2 separate regions of the Homo sapiens genome follow, and region 1 is linked to region 2. The links come from fine-mapping of genetic effects on gene expression. A gene starts in region 2. The other region holds a variant in brackets. All regions are shown on one strand. Distances are from middle to middle. Region 1 overlaps PITPNM2 (phosphatidylinositol transfer protein membrane associated 2). Region 2 holds the start of PITPNM2 (phosphatidylinositol transfer protein membrane associated 2).

Region 1 (5,235 bases), 26 kb after region 2:
GAGGCAGGAGAATGGCGTGAACCCGGGAGGCAGAGGTTGCCGTGAGCCGAGATCACGCCACTGCACTCCAGCCTGGGCGACAGAGCGAGACTCCGTCTCAAAAAAAAAAAAAAAAAGAAAGAAAAAGAGGCAGGGCATAACTCTCAGATAGGAGGTTGCAAAATGAATGTTTTGAGTGGATACAGCCGTTGTCTTAGGTTTTCAAAGTAGACAAACTCAAAATTAATTAGAATAAGACAGTATGGCAGCCTGTTGCAAAATAAGTAGGCAAACACCATTGTTTTTCTATGCGTCAGTGGAAACCATTGTTGAATTTGATGGGTAGGAGCACCTCTAACACCTGTTTGCTTGGGCATCAACACGCCAGTGACCTTATTTTCTGGTTAGAAACAAGAGTAACACCCGGACAGTTCAGGCAGCTGCCAGCACCTCCTGGGTCCCCTGCGACCTGGACTCCCAGGAAATGGAGGGCAGCGGTGTAAGTGGCGTGATGCAGGGTGTTCAGCATCTCTCAGTGGGGTTATTCTGAGGACTCTTCCAGAATGTTTTGAACACATTTGTGCACCATTAAGTCGTTGTCACAGAGCCTGGAAGTCCATTATTTCAAGCTCAACTCATCCTGGATGATGGATGTGACTTGAGGAGGGATGAACCATTCGTGCATTCTCCAAGGGCAGGGCTCTCAGAAATTCCCTGTAGCTTTGTGGTCCCTTGCCCTGGCATCCCCTAGACCACCATGCTGAGGGCAGTGTTTGGACGAGACCCCAGTGAACAGAGCCTGGTTGTTGGAAGTAAATCTTTTGCTCCTGCTGGAAACCAGAGAACAGACACTGCTTCATCACTGCTGTCATTCATGCAAGCTTCATCACATTTTCCCAGTCATTATCCTGATCTTTCTCAAAGGCAATTCTTGCCTCTCTTTCAATCAACAGAGAACCCTAGAGATAATTCAGTCTTTGAGGGATTGCTGAGTCATTCAGCTGACTGGGGCTACCATGATGAAGCTGAAGTTCCAATGTCATGAATCAGGCTGTTCTCGGAGGCCACGGAAGGGGTGGATGGATGTGTGTCTGCCAGCTGTCCCACAGGCTGAACCCATCATGCTGGCCATACTTCCTAAGTCATCCTCCCTCCTCCCTAGTTCTTTTTCTTTACTCACTCAGTGTGGTTTTGCTACTTTTAATTTTCTGCCTTATTTTAACCATAGTGGTTTGCATGACCACCAGAGGGGTCAGTGTGCAGTTCTCCTAGGACTAAAGCCCTCCAGCTTTGTGACAGCTTTTCGCCTGAAGCTTGGTGGTCTGATCTGCAAGTTGGCCCTCTTCTAAATGGTGGGAGTTGTAGTCAGCTTGCTTGCCAGACTGGATTGTGGAGAATAGTAGGGCAAGAGTGAGAGGTTAATAGGGCAAGAATTCCCAAGCTTACCCAAGGATATGCATCAATCCCTGCAGAACCCTTAGCAGTTATATTCAACTCACTGAAGGGTCTGCTTGGTTTTTAGATCTTCTTTCTGATTCTTTAGGGATATGAGGGTCACAGGATTAAAAGGTAGAGCCTAGGCTGGGCATGGTGGCTCAAGCCTGTAATCCCAGCACTTTGGGAGGCCGAGGCAGGCGGATCACAAGGTCAGAAGATTGAGACCATCCTGGCTAACACAGTGAAACCCTGTCTCTACTAAAAATACAAAAAATTAGCTGGGCGTGGTGGCGGGTGCCTGTAGTCCCAGCTACTCCGGAGGCTGAGACAGGAGAATGGCGTGAACCTGAGAGGCGGAGCTTGCAGTGAGCCGAGATCACGCCACTGCGCTCCAGCCTGGGTGACAGTGCGAGACTCCATCTCAAAAAAAAAAAAAAAAAAAAAAACCCTAATTTTTTTTTTTTTTTTTGAGACAGAGTCTCGCTCTGTCGCCCAGGCTGGAGTACAGTGGAGTAATCTCGGCTCACTGCAACCTCGGCCTCTGGGGTTCAAGCGATTCTCCTGCCTCAGCCTCCTGAGAGCTGGGATTACAGGTGCCTGCCACCACGCCCAGCTAATTTTTGTATTTTTAATAGAGACGGGGTTTCACCTTGTTGGTCAGGCTGGTCTCAAACTCCTGACCTCGTGATCCGCCCCCCTCGGCCTCCCAAAGTGCTGGGATTACAGGCGTGAGCCACAGCGCCTGGCCTGTACCATGCATTTTCTTTGCGTTCTGCTATTCCAAAAGAAATATTAAATATTGGCATTTTAAAACATAAAATAATTAGAATTGAAATTTTAAAAACTCTTGTTAAATCTGTAGCATCAACTTAAATGAACCATCAGTGGTGTGCATCATCCTTTGATATGACTGAGTCTGCTTTTTGTATCCAGATATCAATTATTTATTTGTTTTTGCTTCTACCTAACTTCTTCCTTCTCTAACAATTCAAGACTCACAATTTTCTAGGATTCAAAGAACATTGTTTTTTGAGTGCTTTAGAATCATTTACTCATTCATTCTTTCACTTACTAAAAAACATTTAACATTTGGGAGGTTGAGGTGGGCAGATTGCTTGAGCCCAGGAGTTTGAGACCAACCTGGGCAACATGGCAAGACCTCATCTCTACAAAAAAAATACAAAAATTAGCTGGGCATGGTGACACATGCCTGTAGTCCCAGCTACTTGGGAGGCTGAGGCAGGAGGATCAAGGGAGCCCAAGAGATCAAGGCTGCAGTGAGCTGTGATGTCACCGCTGCACTCCATCTGGACTACAGAGCGAGACTCTGTCTCAAAATAAAAAAAATTTTTTTAACGAAACATTGAAAAGGCTATGCATGA[T/C]AGTGCACCAGACATTAGCAAGATTCTAAAGATAAATTAGATACATTCCTTATGGAACTTACAAACTCATAGATTACAGTTCAGTAATAAAATATAAAGATCATATATATTTTAAATATTATTTGGGTAAGTAAGTAATGCATTATACTTGGTACCGAAGTGAAAAGCAGCTACAGGCAAACATAAGACTTCTTGCCGGGTTGGGGGATGGGGGAGGGATAGCATTAGGAGATATACCTAATGTAAATGACGAGTTAATGGGTGTAGCACACCAACATGGCACATGTATACATATGTAACAAACCTGCACGTTGTGCATATACCCTAGAACTTAAAGTATAATAATAATAATAAAAAAGACTTCTTGCCACCCCTGTCTTCAATATCTTAGTTTTCCTTCCCAGAGACAGTGATGGTTGCTAGTTTTGTGTGTGTGTCCTCTTTCAGAGAGATTCTCTGTATATATTAATGTATATTACTTTTTAATTTTTTTTTTTGAGATGGAGTCTCGCTCTGTTGCCCAGGTTGGAGTGCAGTGGTGTGATCTTGGCTCACTGCAGCTTCCGTCTCATGGGTTCAAGTGATTCTCCTGCCTCAGTCTCCCAAGTAGCTGGAATTACAGGTGCACACCACCATGCCTGGCTAATATTTTGTATTTTTATTTTATTTTTTGAGACGGAGTCTCACTCTGTCGCCCAGGCTGGACTGCAGTGGCACAATCTCGGGCTCACTGCAACCTCCGCCTCCTGGGTCCAAGCGATTCTCCTGCCTCAGCCTCCCGAGTAGCTGGGGTTACAGGCATCTGCCACCACGCCAGGCTAATTTTTTTGTATTTTTAGTAGAGATAGGGTTTCACCGTGTTAGCCAGGGTGGTCTCGATCTCCTAACCTCATGATCTGCCCGCGTCGGCCTCCCAAAGTGGTGGGATTACAGGTGTGAGCCACTGTGCCTGGCCACTTTTTAAATTTTAAATTTTAATTTTTTTTTTTTTTTGAGGCAGAATCTTGCTCTGTTGCCCAGGGTAGAGTGCGGTGGTGCGATCTCCACTCACTACAACCTCTGCCTCCTGGGTTCAGGCGATTCTTGTGCCTCAGCCTCCCAAGTAGCTGCGATTACAGGAATGTCCCCCTACACCTGGCTAATTTTTGTATTTTTTAGTAGAGCCGGGGTTTTGTCATGTTGGCTAGACTGATCTCCAACTCCTGGCCTCAATTGATCCACCTGTCTCAGCCTCCCAAAGTGTGGGGATTATAGGCATGAGCCAATGCTCCCGGCCTAAAAATTTAATTTAATTTAATTTTTTTTTGTTTTTTTTGAGAGAGAGAGGGTTTGCTCTGTTACCCAGGCTAGAGAGCAGTGGTGTGATCATAGCTCACTGCAGCCTCAAACTCCTGGGCTCAAGCAGTCCTCCTGCCTCAGCCTCTTGAGTAGCTGGGACTAGAGGCACGTGCAACTGCACCTGGCTAATTTTTTTATTTTTGTAGACATGGAGTCTTGCTATGTTGGCTAGGCTGGTCTCAAACTCCTGGCTTCAAGCAGTCCTCTCACCTCGGCCTCCTAGAGTGTTGGGATTATAGGTGTGATCAACCTTGCCTGGCCTATATTACTTAAAAACAAAGCTAAACACAAATGGCTGCCTATTGTTGTGCATCTGCTTTTTTGACTTCACAATACATAAATCCTGCAGATGGTTCTCTGTTGGCTCATGTAGAGTTGTTCAGTTCTTGTAATGGTGGGCTTAGTATTCTGCTCATGGGTGGACCATCATGTGTTAAACCAGGTCCCTGTTGATGGGGTTTTAGATTGTAAGAGCAGAAGATGGGAAGCAAACAGTGCTGTAGCAGGCATCTCAATAAGTAGGTTTTCATGCAAATATACTCTCATGTCTGTAGAATAAATTTCCAGAAGTAGAATTGCTGGGTCAAGGAGTGTTTTTCTTTTATTTTTGTTAGCAATTGCTAAATTGCTCTCCATAAAGGTAGTACCAATTTACACTCCCACTTACAATGTGTGAGTGCGAGGCAGTGGTTTTCAACCTCAAAACCCCAGGCAAGGAAGAGCTTTTAAGTAAAATAAAAATCTGGAGAAAACTCCTTCTGTGTGAGAGCCTTTTCTACCGCAAAGGGCAGGCTGTAGGGTAGTTCCTGGCATAGCCAGTTAAGACTGTTCATTCCCATTAGCTGCCAGCTTGCACACGACTGAGGGGCTCTTGGGTTTTTGGATTCCTGTAGTCAGGTTGTGGTCTGGAAGATATGTTCCTGGTAAAGGGTGGGGGCAGCAGCTACCTTGCCCCTTCTCTGTCAGCTTGTTTACCACCGAGTATCTGAGAAACACCAGAAGCTAACCTTCAGGGAGGTTATGTTTTTGGGGGAGCTCAGATGTGACCAGGAGGCCTATCAACAGGCTTGCGACTTGGATTTCCCAGATCTGTAAGTTG
Region 2 (5,235 bases):
TGCCACCTCTGGGAAGTGCCTTTTAAAATGCAAATAGAAAGTGAACTCTCCCCTGATGCCTGGATCTGCCCCCTTCCTTTCCCTTGCTAAGCCTCTGTTTGCAGGAGCTACTCCTGAGGTATGGAAATGGTCTTTGCAACTGAAGGACTTTTCCAACTGAAGCAACAGATGTAGCTAAAGTGGCCGTGCTAGGGTTGTGCAGAGCTGGGCTCAGGGGACAAGAAAGGAGAGACTTGGAGCCAGAGAGACCTGGGTCACATCCTGGCACAGGCCTGCCTTTCTCAGCTATAAGATGAAATAAGAAAACTCCTTTCATTAAGGGAGATTTTGTAAAGTGCCTGGTGCTTAGTAAGTGCTCAAGAAATATTATATTTCAGATTCATTGAGTTAAGTAGGTTTTTGAGGTAGCATCCTTTTTTTTTTTTTTTTTTTTTTTTGAGATGGAGTCTCTAGTTCTGTTGCCCAGGCTGGAGTGCAGTGGTGTGATACTGGCTCACTGCAACCTGTCTCCTGGGTTCAAGCTATTCTCCTGCCTCAGCCTCCCGTGTAGGTGGGATTACAGGTGCATACCACGCCTGGTTAATTTTTGTATTTTCGGTAGAGACGGGGTTCTCACCATGTTGGCCATCCTGGTCTTGAACTTCTGACCCCAAATGATCTGCCTGCCTTGGCCTCCCATAGTGTTGGGATTACAGGCGTGAGCCACTGCGCCCAGCCTTGAGGTAGCATACTTTCTGAAATAAAAAAGTAGATTATGTCCGAAGCAGTTGACCTAAAAACTGCCTTGGACTGACATTTGTTAGGTGGTCTAAGATGTTCTCTTCACGCTTTGCAAAAAAATGAGCTTTTTTGGAGTTTAAATTAAGCATCCCTCTGGTGTGTTTGGTTTTTTAGCCACCAAAAATTTAACAAATTTGATAACCTGTCACGTGTAAGTTCAGAAAGCACTTTGGTCTTAATTGGTGACTTGGGGGTTATTTGGTATAAATATAGGTTGTTTTTCTAAAAATTATTGCCAGTATCCTCCAAATAATTGCCCCTTCAAATGTTTCATCTAAAGGTGACAGCTTGTGGGCAGAACCATGCACAGGAAGTGCCTGCCAGTGGGTGTTAGGAGATGTAGGTGGAGTCTGTGATAGCCAACCAAAAGCTATCCCCTTCTCGCCCAGAAAAGCCACGTGCTTTGCTGGACGCTACTTGAAATCTGAACTCTGCACCTACATATGTAGTAAAATTAGACACTTTTGTCACTTTAATTTTTAGATTATCTCAAGTTTTCACTAGATTTCAATGTGCCACTTGTGCTATGAGTCTTTAAGAAGCTTTAAAAAATAAATGCACACCTGTAGCCTTTTACCATTCAGACAGGTAGATTATATTTACCTGTCATGAGGGACCATGTATGGTTGACAGTTGCAGGTTTGATTAAATCCACTATATTGCACAAATTTTGCTGGAAATAATTTCCTGCCCTGCCAAGAGCTCTATGGTAGTTTGATAATAAACTACTACCCCAGTATTCTTAGGAACTGTGTTACTAAGTCTTTTCTGCCTGATTTGTACTTTATTTCCATAGACCCCTCAGATATGTGAGGAATCAAGCCATAAATGTGCATTTGCTGGACATTATGTACCATGTCATCTCTATGACTACAGATTTCAAGGATAATTTTTACATCTAACAATTTCACTGTAACAGTGACCGATAATGTGAGAAATGTGCTTTTTACAGTGCTGCTGGTGGGTAGACAAGTGCTTGCTGCAGTTGTTTCTGAATCTAGCCAGATGCTGGAGTCGTGAAGCTGTAAGCTCCGCGGGAGCAGGGACCATCTCTCTTTCTTGCACTACAGGCACTCAATAAATACTTGTGGCTGTGAACTGGCGTGTGGCCTTTGTGTGTTTATTTCTGCTAGCTGGCTGCAGGAGCGGGTTGTTGGTGATTTTAAGTCCCAGGCATAGAGAAGTCCTTGAGTTATGGGTTAAGGGGCGTCCATCCAGGAGCACAGTTCCCGTTGGGACTCTGTGGGCTCCGCAGATCTTTCTGGATGGATCCTAGGGCACCTCTTGGTGGAGGGAAGGAGCTGAAGCGTTCTAGGTGATGGTGGTACGCCTTGGTCCTCCTCTGCGTGGTCATGGTCAGGGGCACCTGGAGGCGAGTCGGGAACGATGGCCTTCCTGGCCCGTTCAGTTGGGTTCTGCCGTGACCCCAGGAGGTGAGCAGCTGTCAGGGGCTCGGCCTCCCCGGCTTCATCTGGAGTCATCTAGGCCGCCTTAATTTTAGCTTGTCCTCTCTCCTCCAGGGGAGCACCGCCGTCTCCTCAGCCTTATAAGGTGACAAGTAGGGATGGGTCACACATCACTAAGTTTTAGGTGTGCTCTCTTTAGTTCCATGACTTCAGATTTTGCCAAACAAGTCCACCCTGGCTCAACCTAACAAACACCTCATGTTTTTAAGGAATGTCACCAGGCGCTCCCCCACCGGGGGCTCTTCCCATTGGAGAGCCCTGTCGTGCCAGATCATCCGGATTAAACTGTTCGTGATCCTCTTCCAGCTACTCCCTGAGGTGGGGACCGGGACGGCTGCGCTCCCGGCTCTGCCGTTCCCTGGGCCGCGGCCCGGGCGTCCTGAGGGGAGAGCGCGGACCCACCGTGTGGCGAGCACCGCGCCCGGGGCTGGGCTTCGGTGAGCTGCCCGCTGCGCTCTGCCCTCCCTGGTTTACCATTTCGCTCCTAAGAAACTTCATTTTTTAAAATGAGGCTGTTTTAAGAGTCACAGTGGCCGCAAGTCGGCCGGTTCCCGCCCCCGAGTGCGCTCGGCTGCTGCGGACGGTGGGCGAGGAGCCCGGGGCGGGGATCCGCGCCGCCGCCCCCGAGTCCAGTCCCGGGCCCTGAGGACACGGGCGAGCCGGGGAGGAGCGGGGTCGCCGCGGCAGGTCTGAGGAACCAGGCGGGCTGCCCGAGTCGGAGAGGTTTCTTCCGGCGGAGGCGGCGGGGCCGGGCCGAGACTCCGCAGGGACGCGCCCCCGCCGCCGCCGCCGCCGCTCCCCCGCGCGGCCTGAGGAGGCGCCGCCGCCACTGAGGGAATGCGAGCCCGGCCCGGCGCGCGCGGGCAGCAGCGGCCGCTGGGGTGCGCGGGGCACCGCGGCGCCGCGGCGTAGAGCTGTCCAGCCGGCCCCGGCCGCCCGCCCGGCGCTTCCTTCTCAGCTCGCGGCCGCCTCAGCGAGAGCCGCCCGCCAGCACGTGCGCCGCCGCCGCCCGCCTGCGACGCTCGGGAGCAATGCCCGCCGGGGCTCTGCCGCTCGCCCGGGGCCAGCAGGCGGCGGGGGCGCGCGGGGCGCAGCCGGCCGGGCCGGGGCCGCGGGGCGGGCGCTCCCCGTGAGGCGGCGTGAGGTGGCGGCGGCCCAGCCGGGGCCCCGAAGAGGACAGAGCCCGCGGCCGCGCCGAGCGGGGTGAGTGCGTCCGGGCGGCCGCTCCGCAGGCCCGCGGTGAGTCCCGCAGTGCCGGGCGCTGGCCGGGGACCTGGGGATCTGGGCGGCGGCTCCCAGAGAGGCCCCGGCCCGCCCGCCCGCCGAGCCTCCAGCCCGCCGGGGGCTGGAGGAGGGAGCGGAGACCCGGGCAGGGAGGAGGGTGTGGCGTACGGGAGCCCCGCTCGGGAGACCGCCCGAGCCTGGCCTCAGTGAGTCGCCGGCCCTGGATCCGTGCCCGAAACGCTGATTTCCGAATTTCCGTCGGTCGCGACCGCGTGGGGGACCCCCGCCAGGGACAAGTGTCATAGCGGTCGGGGGGCAGGCGTGGGCAGTGCCGGTGCCAGGGCGAGGAAGGGGCTATCGGGAGGAAGCGGAGGTGAGCCCCCGGCCCGCCTTCTCTGCTTCCCGCCTCCAGCTGAACGTCCCCAGGCCCGGGCCGTGGCCTCTGCTTGTCGGGGGCCCAGGGTTGGGGTGTGGCCCGTCTCCATCCTCAGTGCCCCCTTCGTGTGGTAATGGGGTGCCGGCTCTGTCTTCTTCCCACCCCGAATCCTTTCTTATCCGTGGCAGGGCTGATCGGGGGGCCTTGGGGAGAGGGAAAGTTCAGTGTCCCCCGCCCCAGTGTGCACTGCCTCCCCGCAAGAAATCCCAAACGGCCACTCCAGGTGAACATAGTGCGCGCGGTGCAAATGTCATTTCAAGGCAAGTCCTCCAGGCTTGTCCCCTTTCCACCGACTTGCTCCTGCAGAGACATCCTGCACTCCTCTCCCTCCCACTGAAGTGTGGGCTGGGTGCCTCTCCAAACACCCCGGCCTACCTGCCTCCCCCACCCAGAGTCGGGATTCTTCAAAGGAGACCTCACTGGAACATCTGTCTTTGTCCACAACCAGCTCTCTCCCCGGCCTCCACCTGGGAGTGACCAGAGCTGCTAGGATAGACCCCCCACTTCTGGAGGGAAGGCAGTAAGTGCTCCCCTTCATCTGAATCTCCCCTAACATCCATCCCCCAGACTCCTCTCTGCTCTGAACTCCCACTGCCTGCTATCTGTATCTCCTGTGTAACTCTTATCACCGTCTGCCTTATTTTATAGTTACTTTTCCATCTGCCTTATCTCCCCTGCTGGACGGTGAGCTCCCGGGCTGGAGTTGATTCATCTCTGGTCTCCTGCCCTGGTCAGTACCCTGCGTGGAGTCAGTGTCTCCGTGGAGCAGAAGGCCCCTCCAACGCTTGCCTCTGGGACCATAGCTTGTCTGATTCCTGGACTGTTGCTGTTAAATTACTTTCCTTCCATGAAGGGACTGTATTCTGTGGTTGGAATGGACTTCCAGCCCTCTCCCACTGCAGAGAGAAACACAATGAGTTAGGAAGGGCTGTTTTTCTTGTAAGGAGTGGCTTGCCAAGTGAACAGGACAGTACATCCTCTGCCCTGAAGATGGCCAGGCAAAGACTCCAGATTCTCTGGGTAGTGAGTGTTGAATGGGCCATTCTCTCTCCTGGTCTTCCCCAGCTGCTCAGGCGTGGGAGGCAGCAGGGGAGAGAAGTGGACTGCGGGAGTCGAGAGACTGGGGTTCCAGGCCTGGCTTTTCCCATAACTTGCTACAGGAGCTTAACTAAGTCACTTGGTTTCTCTTGGTTTTGGTTGCACCTTATGGAATCTGAAAGAATTCCTCTGCGTATCTAAGGCCCCCTGGGATCTGGGTCCTGTCTACCTTTTCTGCCTCCTCTCCTACCATTTCATTCATACCCTAAGCTGCAGTCCTCTCAGGCTACC

The links.
Region 1: its variant is fine-mapped to the expression of PITPNM2 in fibroblasts (GTEx, PIP above 0.99).

Annotation. Positions count from the first base shown.
Region 1 is chr12:123,122,492-123,127,726 of GRCh38, reverse strand. All of the region lies in intron 1 of PITPNM2 (phosphatidylinositol transfer protein membrane associated 2), which reads left to right. Among named protein-coding and RNA genes, the nearest start is that of PITPNM2, 26 kb to the left of the region's middle. RefSeq lists an enhancer at 1-79. The variant T/C (reference allele first, on the strand shown) is at 2,799.
Region 2 is chr12:123,148,967-123,154,201 of GRCh38, reverse strand. It overlaps PITPNM2 (phosphatidylinositol transfer protein membrane associated 2), which reads left to right and starts at 3,112. Exons shown (of 26, transcript NM_020845.3): 1 at 3,112-3,449. It also overlaps a transcript of MPHOSPH9 not described here. RefSeq lists silencers at 2,729-2,928, 2,949-3,208, 3,229-3,368, 3,469-3,558.